Homo sapiens: one gene and its partner. The protein of the gene in region 2 purifies or fractionates together with the protein of the main gene of each other region. This does not show direct contact. Each region holds a gene or a part of one and is shown on either strand. Other genes may lie near its edges.

Region 1 (4,992 bases), on a different chromosome or scaffold from region 2:
GAAACAAAACAAAATGTGTTTTAATTTAGGATTTTATAAGCAATCATTCTTCACTATCAAAGACATCACGTTTTTATTCTATGGTGATTTTAGTATTTATTTTATAGGACACCAATGGAGTTCTTATTAAGGCAGGGAAAATGAGAGCACAGGAAGAAAGTGGGGTTCAAATTGTTCACGCCGTGGATAAACTCACTATAGTATTGTGGTACTTAGGCAGTTGGAAAGAAGCCTTGAGCTCTCCTTGCAAACCCCAACCTGCAATTTTTATTTTGTTTTGACGCTGCTTCTTCCTTTTGGTCTTCTAGGTCTTTCCTCAAGCTTTGCTTTCTTTTCTTTCTTCTCCTCTATCCCCTTTAGTTCTATTCTATCTCCCTTCTCTTTTTCCTTTTCTTCTATTTCTATTCCATTCCTGCATCCTTTAGTTTCTTATTTCTCTTGCCTCAATCCTTGCCCTTATTCATCCCTTCTAATCTCTCTTTTCCTTTCCTGGTTAATTCTTTTTTGGGGGGGACATTTTTGGGTATTTTCTTACTTTTAGATGATCTTTTTTTCCCTCCTTCTTTTCCCTTCCTCCACTTCCACTCCTTCAAATCCTCTCCCTCTCATCCTCCTCCCTCCCTCTCTCTTTCCTTTAACCCTTTTTTATCTTTACAAATTGCTCACTTCCTTCTCTCTCCCCCTCACTCTCTTTTTTTGTGACAATAAGTTGTAGTCTCTTTTATTTTTTTCTATTTTCTCCAAGTGAAATCCAAGGTTGTAGTCTCTTTATTTTTAATCTTATTTTTTTTTGGTGTATAGTAGGTGTATGTATTAATGGGGTACATGAGATACCCTGAGACAGGCATGCAATGCGTAATAATCACATCATGGAAAATGGAGTGTCCATCCCCTCAAGCATTTATCTTTTGTGTTACAAACCATCCAATTAGACTCTTTTACTTATTTTAAAATGTACAATGAAATTATTATGGACTATAGTCACCCTGTTGTGCTGTTGAATACTAGGTCTTATTTATTCTTTCTAACTACTTTTATTTTTTACCCTTTAACTATCCCCACTTCCATCCTCACCCTCCATCTCTTTCTTGATGGTTATCTTCTATTGTCTCAGCAGGAACATTACATTTGATGTGTCCAATATTAGACAAAAATTGAAGGCTTCCCTGGGAATTTGAATCAAGACTAATAGGTTTCTCAGCCTTGGTAAAAACACTGACTTGAACTCTGATTACTGTTTTTTTCTTTAGCCAGAGGAAGTTATCTTAAAGGGTTTGCCTTTCTCTGGGCTGGCTGGAGCAATGTGACTTGGTGTTCTAGTTTTGACTCCTTCCACCTTTTCAGCCCAAGTTAAAAATCAATTAGAAAAGTTCCTATTTTCTGCACAGGTGAAGTCCAAGCTAGTCTATAATCACATTATGCATTATTTAATACAACTCCATTAATTTACAAGGAGCTCTGGCTTTACTGCAAGATTCAGAATAAGTTTTCCTAAGAAATTTGAGCTTTGCCACCTCAACATCCAACATAGTTATCCTTTAAAACAAAAATTATGATGAGGCTGAGACCCTACTTTCAGCCTGAATTGGTAGATAAATATTCTAAGTTTAAATGAGTGTCCAGGAAAATGTGTTTGACTACTCTAGAAACCTAGCTGCTTAAGAAATATAATGTCCTTGAATTAATCAGTGGAAAAGGCACAGCATTAAATTATAAATTCTAACCATTAATATTCATAGCCTTATTCCAGCATAATCAAGTACAGATAAGAAGTTATGCATAAAAACATAACAAGTAGAGGAAAATCCTAGGTAAAGATCTTTTCAGTTAGAGTCATTTGCTTTGAAATAGTGGAAACTACTGATTTACATGTTGTCTTTGCTGGCAGCAGTGTGAAAGGCAGTTTGAAACCTTATGTGCTCCAGGGAGAGTATGTGGCTTGCCAGGTTTGTGAATATGGGACATTTAATTCCAATACTGTACGGGGGGCTGGTAACATCTGCTTTGCTAATGACAGATAGGGAAGAAGTGCAGAATAGGTGGGAAAGTTTTAGTTCTGAATGTGTCGGTGGCTGCTCTGATCCCAAAAAAACTGTGATTGTGGCCTAAGAAAAAAGTTTATCTGCTAGCTAGGATTTATATAATCGATTTAGTGTGACAGGTGATAATAACAACAATAATAGTAGCAGTTTGTTTGTGCTTTTTCAAATGCTTCCAGTTCTATTCTCTCCTCTCAAGTAACCCTTTAAGGCAGATAGGCCAGGTGTTGTCTCTCCCATTTTAGAGACAGTAAAACTGCAGTTCATAAAGGTAAGGAGACTTGCCCAAGGTCATTCCTCTCTTGGCTGGTTAAGCCAGGTCAGAATTCGAGTCTTCAAAATCATCTCAACTCTCTTTCCTCTTGGCCATGCTGTTAGCATCCTCCAAGGTAGGCCCAGGAAGAGATGCAGTAGTAATGCCTTCAAATCCAAAGTTATCCCTTTAGCTGAGGGCTTTCGAATTTCCAAGTGAGTTATTACAGCTGTCCCTAGGTTGCCTTGAAAATTGTCATTTATCCGGGGGCCTGGGAGAATGCCCGTTTAGGACAGGCCAGTAGAAAAGGTTTTTGACTGCCTTACATTGATTCATTGTCTGTCAGTACACAGAGAAGACAGGGAGCTGCCTCTGCATAAGATGCTGAAAGCATTTTATACTTTTCTGTTGTTTACGGTATGTCCTTTTGTGACTATACTTAGGAAAGGGATGGCACAAAAGGCAGCTCAGGATTTTCTCTTTCTCTGGAGGCTTATGGTCTTTGGCATGAGTTATTTAATATGACACATTTGCTAGTAGATCCTCATGCACGGGAAGGTTGAGGCAGCCTAGGAGACATTAAGGCAACCCATAAAGAAATAACATTGATTGAGCCGTATTTGTATAGTGAAATATAATAAATTAAAAGGTCAGATTGGAAAATGCTGAAATTACTGTTTCTCTATTAATTTCTATAATTCATAGGGCCTCCATTAACTAGGCACTTAACGTACATTATCTCTAGTCTTTATGATAATCTTGTAAGCTCAGTATCATTACCCCCAGTTTACAGGAAACTAAGGGTTAAAGAAATTAAGTGATTTGCCCACTAAGTACTGAAGTTAGATTTGAGTCTAGTTGGGTCTAGCTCCAAAGTACTTTATATGTCTTTACAATCACTCCAGGCTCAATGAACCCTGTTACGTTTACTTTGAAACATATATTGAAAATAGTAGTATGTTGCAAAGTAAACGTACTTATTTCAAATAGTCTGGCCATAGTTATAATCACAGGTTTTGAGAGACTGGCAGAAACATGAACCAGATTAATTCTTTAGCTTGCTAGCACTACACCCTTATTTATTACAAGACCACATTAATTATAAGGAACAATAACAGGCACCCTCAAATCAACGCTCACACAAATTTTATTCCTCATCAATGATATAGTATGTGCATAACAAGCAAAATAAAATGGAAGCTGTGAATGTTAGGCTGGTGGCTTAAAGGCTCAACTAAAACATAGATGAGCCATCTAGTGCTCAGACTTGTCATGATGAGGAGCTTCGAGATAAAGATGTTGACACAGGACGTGTCTCCTCAAGGCTAGACCCATATTCTTGATAGAATGTTTAGCAGCGTCCCTGGTCTTTAGATGCCAATAGCACTCGCCCACCCCCCAGTTATGAGAACCAGGACAAAATCACCACCACTACCGCCCTCCCTCCATTTAGAACCACTTTTCTAGATCAAAATACAGCCATAGGTCAGCTAAAGACAGGGACATGTTCTGATAAATGCATCGTTAGGTGATTTTAACATTGGTGAACGTCATTGTATACTTACACAAACCTAGAGGGTGTAGCCAACTACACACTCAGGCTATATGATATAGCCTATTGCCAGGCTACAAACCTGTACAGCCTGTGACTGTACTGAATAATGTAGGCAATTATAATACAATGGTAAGTTTTTGTGTGTGCATATATATCTAAACATAGAAAAGGTACAGTAAAAATATGATATTTATAATCTCATGGGACCACTGTCATATATGCAGTCTGTCATAGACAAAAATGTTATGCAGCAAATGACTGTATTTTCCAGAAGAAGAAAAAAATGCAGAAAGTGCCCCAAGTGCCAGATGTGGGACTGGAGGCTCCCAGGCAGGCTGGGCTGCCTCTCCCAAGACTGCACCTCCCAGGAGGAGCTGACATGTGGTCAGCATTGTCCACGCATTCCCAAAGCTACAGATTCATATATGTGAAAAGTTCATATGAATGATTTACTTAAATTAGTAAAGTTCACACTCTGAAGTCTTTCTGGCCCATCCCCAAGCTCTTTTGTGTCTTCTCTAACTCCATGGATGATTGCCATTTTCCTGAACACCACTGAGCATCCTTTAAGTGTCAGCTGAAGAACCTTGAGTTTTTTCCTCAAATGGATCTTTACAGACCCTTCATTTTGTCTGCACCAGGGCAGGCACACCACACATTTTTATAGGTAACAAACTCCAGAATATGCCTTGCTTTTTTTTGTGAAAATCTAGGAGAACCACATTTTATTTAGCAGAGATGACAGTTGAATCACTCATTTTTGTAGAACAACAGCTGCGATGTGCCACCAAAATGTTCCAGAGAAGCTGAGGGTGTTTCATTTGTTCCAAGAGCTGGCAAGGCCAAATGCCAACAAGCATATTTATTTCTCAAACTTCCATTTCTGTAATGGATTGGCACTTTATTTATTTTTATCATAGTCAAGGTTTTATGCCTGAGTTTTGTAGACACTGGAACCTGGCAGCCCTATATCTGCAGTGCACTTCTCAGGGGGACTTGTTAGGTTTTATATATAGTGAGCCCTCCATAGCCTTGGTTCCGCATCTGCAGATATAACCAAACTCAGATTGAAAAATTTCACGGAAAAAAACTAATAAAAATAACCATGTAACAACAGGAACTATACAAATAAAAAACAATACAAC
Region 2 (4,992 bases):
TTTATTGTGTACATACCATATTCAATAGGAACCTTAGTGATACAACCATATACATTTTTATTAACAAATAGAGCATATGGATATCAAATTGCTTTATTTCATATATTTTTTAAATTTAATAATTAGATTTGCTTTTGATAATATTTGTAATTCATATCTATACCAAGGCACTAAGGCTATATCAATGCTTTAAAAATCATATAATTAAAATTTACAAAATAACCAGAAAACAAAAAGAAAGAAAAGTACAGTAATTCTCAAGATAAGGGAGGTTTTCTCCATGTTGGTATTTCCAATCCAGGCCACCAAAAGAGACAACTTAGTTCATTCAAATCGTCAGAAAACTATGTAAATATTTATTGGCTTGATTTAGTCATTCCACAGTTTATACATATCTCAAAACAACATGTACATGATAAATATATACAATTTTGTCAATGAAAATAGATTTACAAATAAAAACACATAAATTGTTTTTAAAATGTCCAAAATTATTATATTAGCAAATTAACTAAAACAAGTAGCCATTATATAAATATTAACTAAAATAATTTTTTTAAAAAAATACTATTCTAAATAATGTAAGGCTGTGCTGTCCTCTAAAAATCTGAAGATCATTGCAATATTCAGAAATGTTTCCCATCACCTACTTCCTGGGAAAACAAATATTCTACCTTATTGTGTATTAGAAGAATCATTCTCTGTAGGGCTAGTCCAAGCATGATTCATATTTTCGGGATGACTCTCCAGTTTTCCTGTAAAGGGGAGCCTGCCTGGCCCATCCCTCCTCTCATGTGTAGCTGAGTCATTTTTATGCGCTGAGAAAGGAATTGTGCAGTTACTACATTTATCTGGTCTTTTCTACCAAGTAACTCAAGGTACTGCTTTAAAAAGAGCAACAATGTTGGAAAATAATTTTGAGACATGTTATAACCACAAGTAATGGTTCTTTTCCATGACAAATTTGAACACGCACTCTTTGGAATCAAGGTTTCAGCTGGAATGTCTAGAAGGGAAGAGTCCTGACATCTTATGTCTGACATAATTACTCATTTGGTTCAGACTTGGACTAGTCTATTCATTATAACCCTAGAAAATAAACAATCTACATTGTTTCAAGAGCAACCATAGTCTTTTGCCAAATAGAAATCTAAATTGACTGTCATATAATTTTCTTTGTACCATTAGTTTGTTTTTTTTTTTTTTCTCTTTATGACAACTTTGGTTAGAATTTAGCAGTAGTTGGCTCACACCTGTAATCCCAGCACTTTGGGAGGCCAAGGCGGGTGGATCACCTGAGGTCAGGAGTTCGAGACCAGCCTAACCAACATGGTGAAACTCCGTCTCTGCTAAAGATACAAAATTAGCCGGGTGTGGTGGTGTGCCCATGCCTGTAATCCCTGTTACTCGGGAGGCTAAGGCAAGAGAATCCCTTGAACCCGGGAGACGAAGCTTACATTGAGTCAAGATCGCACCATTGCACTCCAGCCAGGGCAAAAATTGCACTCCAGCCAGGGCAAAAAGAGCGAAACTCCGTCTCAAAAAAAAAAAAAAAAAGAATTTAGTAGTAGTGAGGTACATGCTCTGGAGTTAGGCTACTGCGGTCGCTATCCTATTATGGCCATTAGCTAGGGCAAAGTATTCATTCCCTTGCATCTCCAATTCTTCATCTGTATACTAGGGATTATAATACTAGAATCTCCTTCAGGTGCCTGCTGTAAGTATTACATAAAACAGTAAGTATAAAGCTCTAGGAGTAGCAGCTGATACCGAAACTACACAATAAACATTAGCTACTGTTATTACTCTTCTAGTTTTTTTTTTCTTCTGACTTATTTTCCACCATTATTTTCCGACCAGATTCATCCGATAATCAGTGGATTAGCAAATACTTGTTAAGCACCTGTGAGGGTTACAAGAAAAAAAAAATAACCTAATAGCACTGAACTGGAAAGTTTACAATACTCCTGGCTTAGCACAGAAATTCTTTCATGTGCATAAAACAAGAAATAATAAACTGTGGTAAACCATCATGGGCTAAATTTCATGGTACAGAATATGTGTTGTACAAACTCAGAAAAAGAGACATCAGTAAAGACAATTTCATGGAGGTTGTTGGAACTTGATGGATCTGGAAGGATGAGCAATATTTAAGTGGGTGGAGTAGAAAGAGGTAATGCATGCCAGGCAGAACAGAAGATGAAAAATGACACAGATGAATGTCTCATATGCTCTTGAGAAGGTGAAGACCCTAGCCTACATGGCTTCATTTTACTGTCATTTAATTTTTTGGGGCCACTCTGAAAATTAAGTTCAATATTTAAATTGAAGTAATAGAGCAGAGATGAACAGATCCATGTCTCACTGCAAACAGGGTTTGTGATTGGAATAGCATATCCTCATCTTTTACGTTTTGTTCTCTAAACCAGACTGGTTCCATTCCATTCTTTTCACTTGTACAATTAAAGAAAATGTTCTGTAATTGTAGAGGACTAATACAGGATTGCCTTCCTACAAATCAGTTGGGTGGCTGAAGGTTTTTAATAATCCCCTGTGGCCCCTTTCTGAAGCATTTCACAATGGTGCTTACCAATGTTTCCCAAAGCAATGACTTTCATAGCTTCCAGGAACGGTGTATAAAGCAGCCAGGTAAGAATTGTGTGGTTGCTGCAACTGACTATTAGGCATAGTTTTTGCAAAGTCCAATAGGTTCTTCTTTATGTCATCAAAATTCTGTAGTCAATTAAAAAACTGGTGGAATGTGTTTATATTGACAGTAATATTCCTTTTCCTGGTAGGAACTTACCCTTTGATTATGGCTTCTTGAAACTTACTTCTTTTGAAATAGAAACAAATCACAATATGAACAATAGAATATAATAATCAGGATTATTCATTGTATATAATTCCTTATTTGAAGAATTCACATTTAATTCGACTTTATTTAAATGTCTGCAGGTGGTCATATTGGTTCATGGAGAATTGCGAATAGAGGTAAAGTATGAAAAAGGTTTTTGTACTTAAAATAATAGTTTAGTTTAAAAAAAAATTAAATTGTGTTTAGTAGAAATGAATATTTAATTTCTAAAATTATTCAATAATTTAATTGTGAAAATATATAAAATTAAAATTCTAATAACTGATAACAATATTTTAAAACTAGTCATCCATAAATGTCATTATTATAATTTATTTCATGCATTCTTTTCTTCTTATCTTAAACAAATCAGCTGGTCAAACCCTATGGGCCCAGTAAGATACTGTGGAGTATAAAAAGAAAATATAAAATACGACTAAATGCTAATATTAAAAATCACATAGCTTTGTAGTTATTTTAGTTATTTAACATTTATTACTTGCTTGACAAAGTATCAGGTAGAGCTAATTAGATACCTAACAGTCTTAGTGATCTTGAAACATAGGGGGTTCCTCAACTAGGTGTCTGTAATCAATATTCTAAGCAAAAATTGCCATTAATTTCCATAACAAATGGAATCCCTTTTTACATAAGACTAAAGGTCAATATGATGAAGAAGAGATGACTATGCAACAAGCTAAAAGAAGGCAAAAACGTGAATGGGTGAAATTTGCCAAACCCTGCAGAGAAGGAGAAGATAACTCAAAAAGAAACCCAATTGCCAAGGTAAGTTATATCAACAGGAGCGTATGAGTTTTTAGAATAAATGTATAAGGTGTAAATTAAAATAATACGGCAATTCCAAATAACAAAATGAAGACTGGGGAGTCCACAGAACAAGTGAACTGGTATCCTCAACAAAATAGTACAATAATAATAATAATGAGAGAAAGAGAGAAAGGAAGGTAGCTTCTAGGGTTATGAAAAAGAATTGAGACAAAGAATTGAGACATATTGACCAATTTTAATATAGAAGGCTTACTTGGATACAGAGTCTAGCAAACAAATAGGAAAAATAATGCATGTATAAGACAGAAATGGTTGGGAGCAAAATATGGATTGGTCATGTATTGATAACTGTTGAAGCTCAGTGATAGGATGTATCAGGTTTATTATACTATTCTCTTTCTTTCTTTCTTTCTTTCTTTCTCTTTCTTTCTTTCTTTCTTTCTTTCTTTCTTTCTTTCTTCTTTCTTTCTTTCTTTCTTTCTTTCTTTCTTTCTTTCTTTCTTTCTTTCTTTCTTTTTCTGAGATGGAGTCACTGTGCCTCCCAGGCTGGAGTGCTGTGGCGCGATCTCAGCTCACTGCAACCTCCTCCTCCCAGGTTCAAGCAATTCTCCTGCCTCAGCCTCCTGAGTAGCTGGGATTACAGGCGTGTGCCACCATGCCCGGCTAATTGTTTTTGTATTTTTAGTAGAGACGGGGTTTCACCATATTGGCCAGGCTGATCTCGAACTTCTGACCTCATGATCTGCCCACCTCGGCCTCCCAAAGTGCTTGGATTACAGGCATGAGCCACCACGCCCAGCCTGTTATACTGTTCTAACTTTACATATATTTCACATTTTTCATGTTAAAAAGCTTTAAAATTACAATAATAATAAGTAAATTATTTTAATACATATTTTAACCCTACCATACAATCTCTTTCCCTTTTTGTCTCTCCACTTCCCCCTATTTAAACTAAATAAATATCTTTTGTTTTTTAATGTTGTCAGGTAAAGAGGGAGCCTTCAGGAGTAGCCTTGTCAATATTAAATGACTTTGACTTTCTTTTAACATTTTAACACTATCATGTGGCCACAGTCTGAGCAAATATTCTAACACTAAAATGATTAGTGCACATCATTGGTTCAGGCTGGTTGTCAAAAACAACGGTTTGATTTTATTTCATATTCCTAGTATCTATCAAGGCAAAAAGTAAATGGCACAATGTCAAAAAGAGTGAATCGAATGAACAGATGACTTTAGACTATGGAAGTGGGGGTGGAGAGGGAAAGGCTTGAGTGATGGTCACCTCAACGTTTTTGGTATTTGGGGCTGTAGATTACTTCAGATTACCAAGCAACCCAGAA

The links. The genes of interacting proteins can lie anywhere in the genome.
Region 1: the proteins of DSG3 (region 2) and OLFM4 purify together in Homo sapiens (co-immunoprecipitation; one large-scale study listed by IntAct). This does not show direct contact.

Annotation. Positions count from the first base shown.
Region 1 is NC_000013.11:53,034,538-53,039,529, forward strand, and holds part of OLFM4 (olfactomedin-4 precursor), read left to right. Parts: intron 1-4,992. UniProt on the Homo sapiens protein: May promote proliferation of pancreatic cancer cells by favoring the transition from the S to G2/M phase. In myeloid leukemic cell lines, inhibits cell growth and induces cell differentiation and apoptosis.
Region 2 is NC_000018.10:31,453,482-31,458,473, forward strand, and holds part of DSG3 (desmoglein-3 preproprotein), read left to right. Parts: intron 1-2,958; coding exon 2,959-2,994; intron 2,995-3,511; coding exon 3,512-3,643; intron 3,644-4,963; coding exon 4,964-4,992. UniProt on the Homo sapiens protein: A component of desmosome cell-cell junctions which are required for positive regulation of cellular adhesion. Required for adherens and desmosome junction assembly in response to mechanical force in keratinocytes.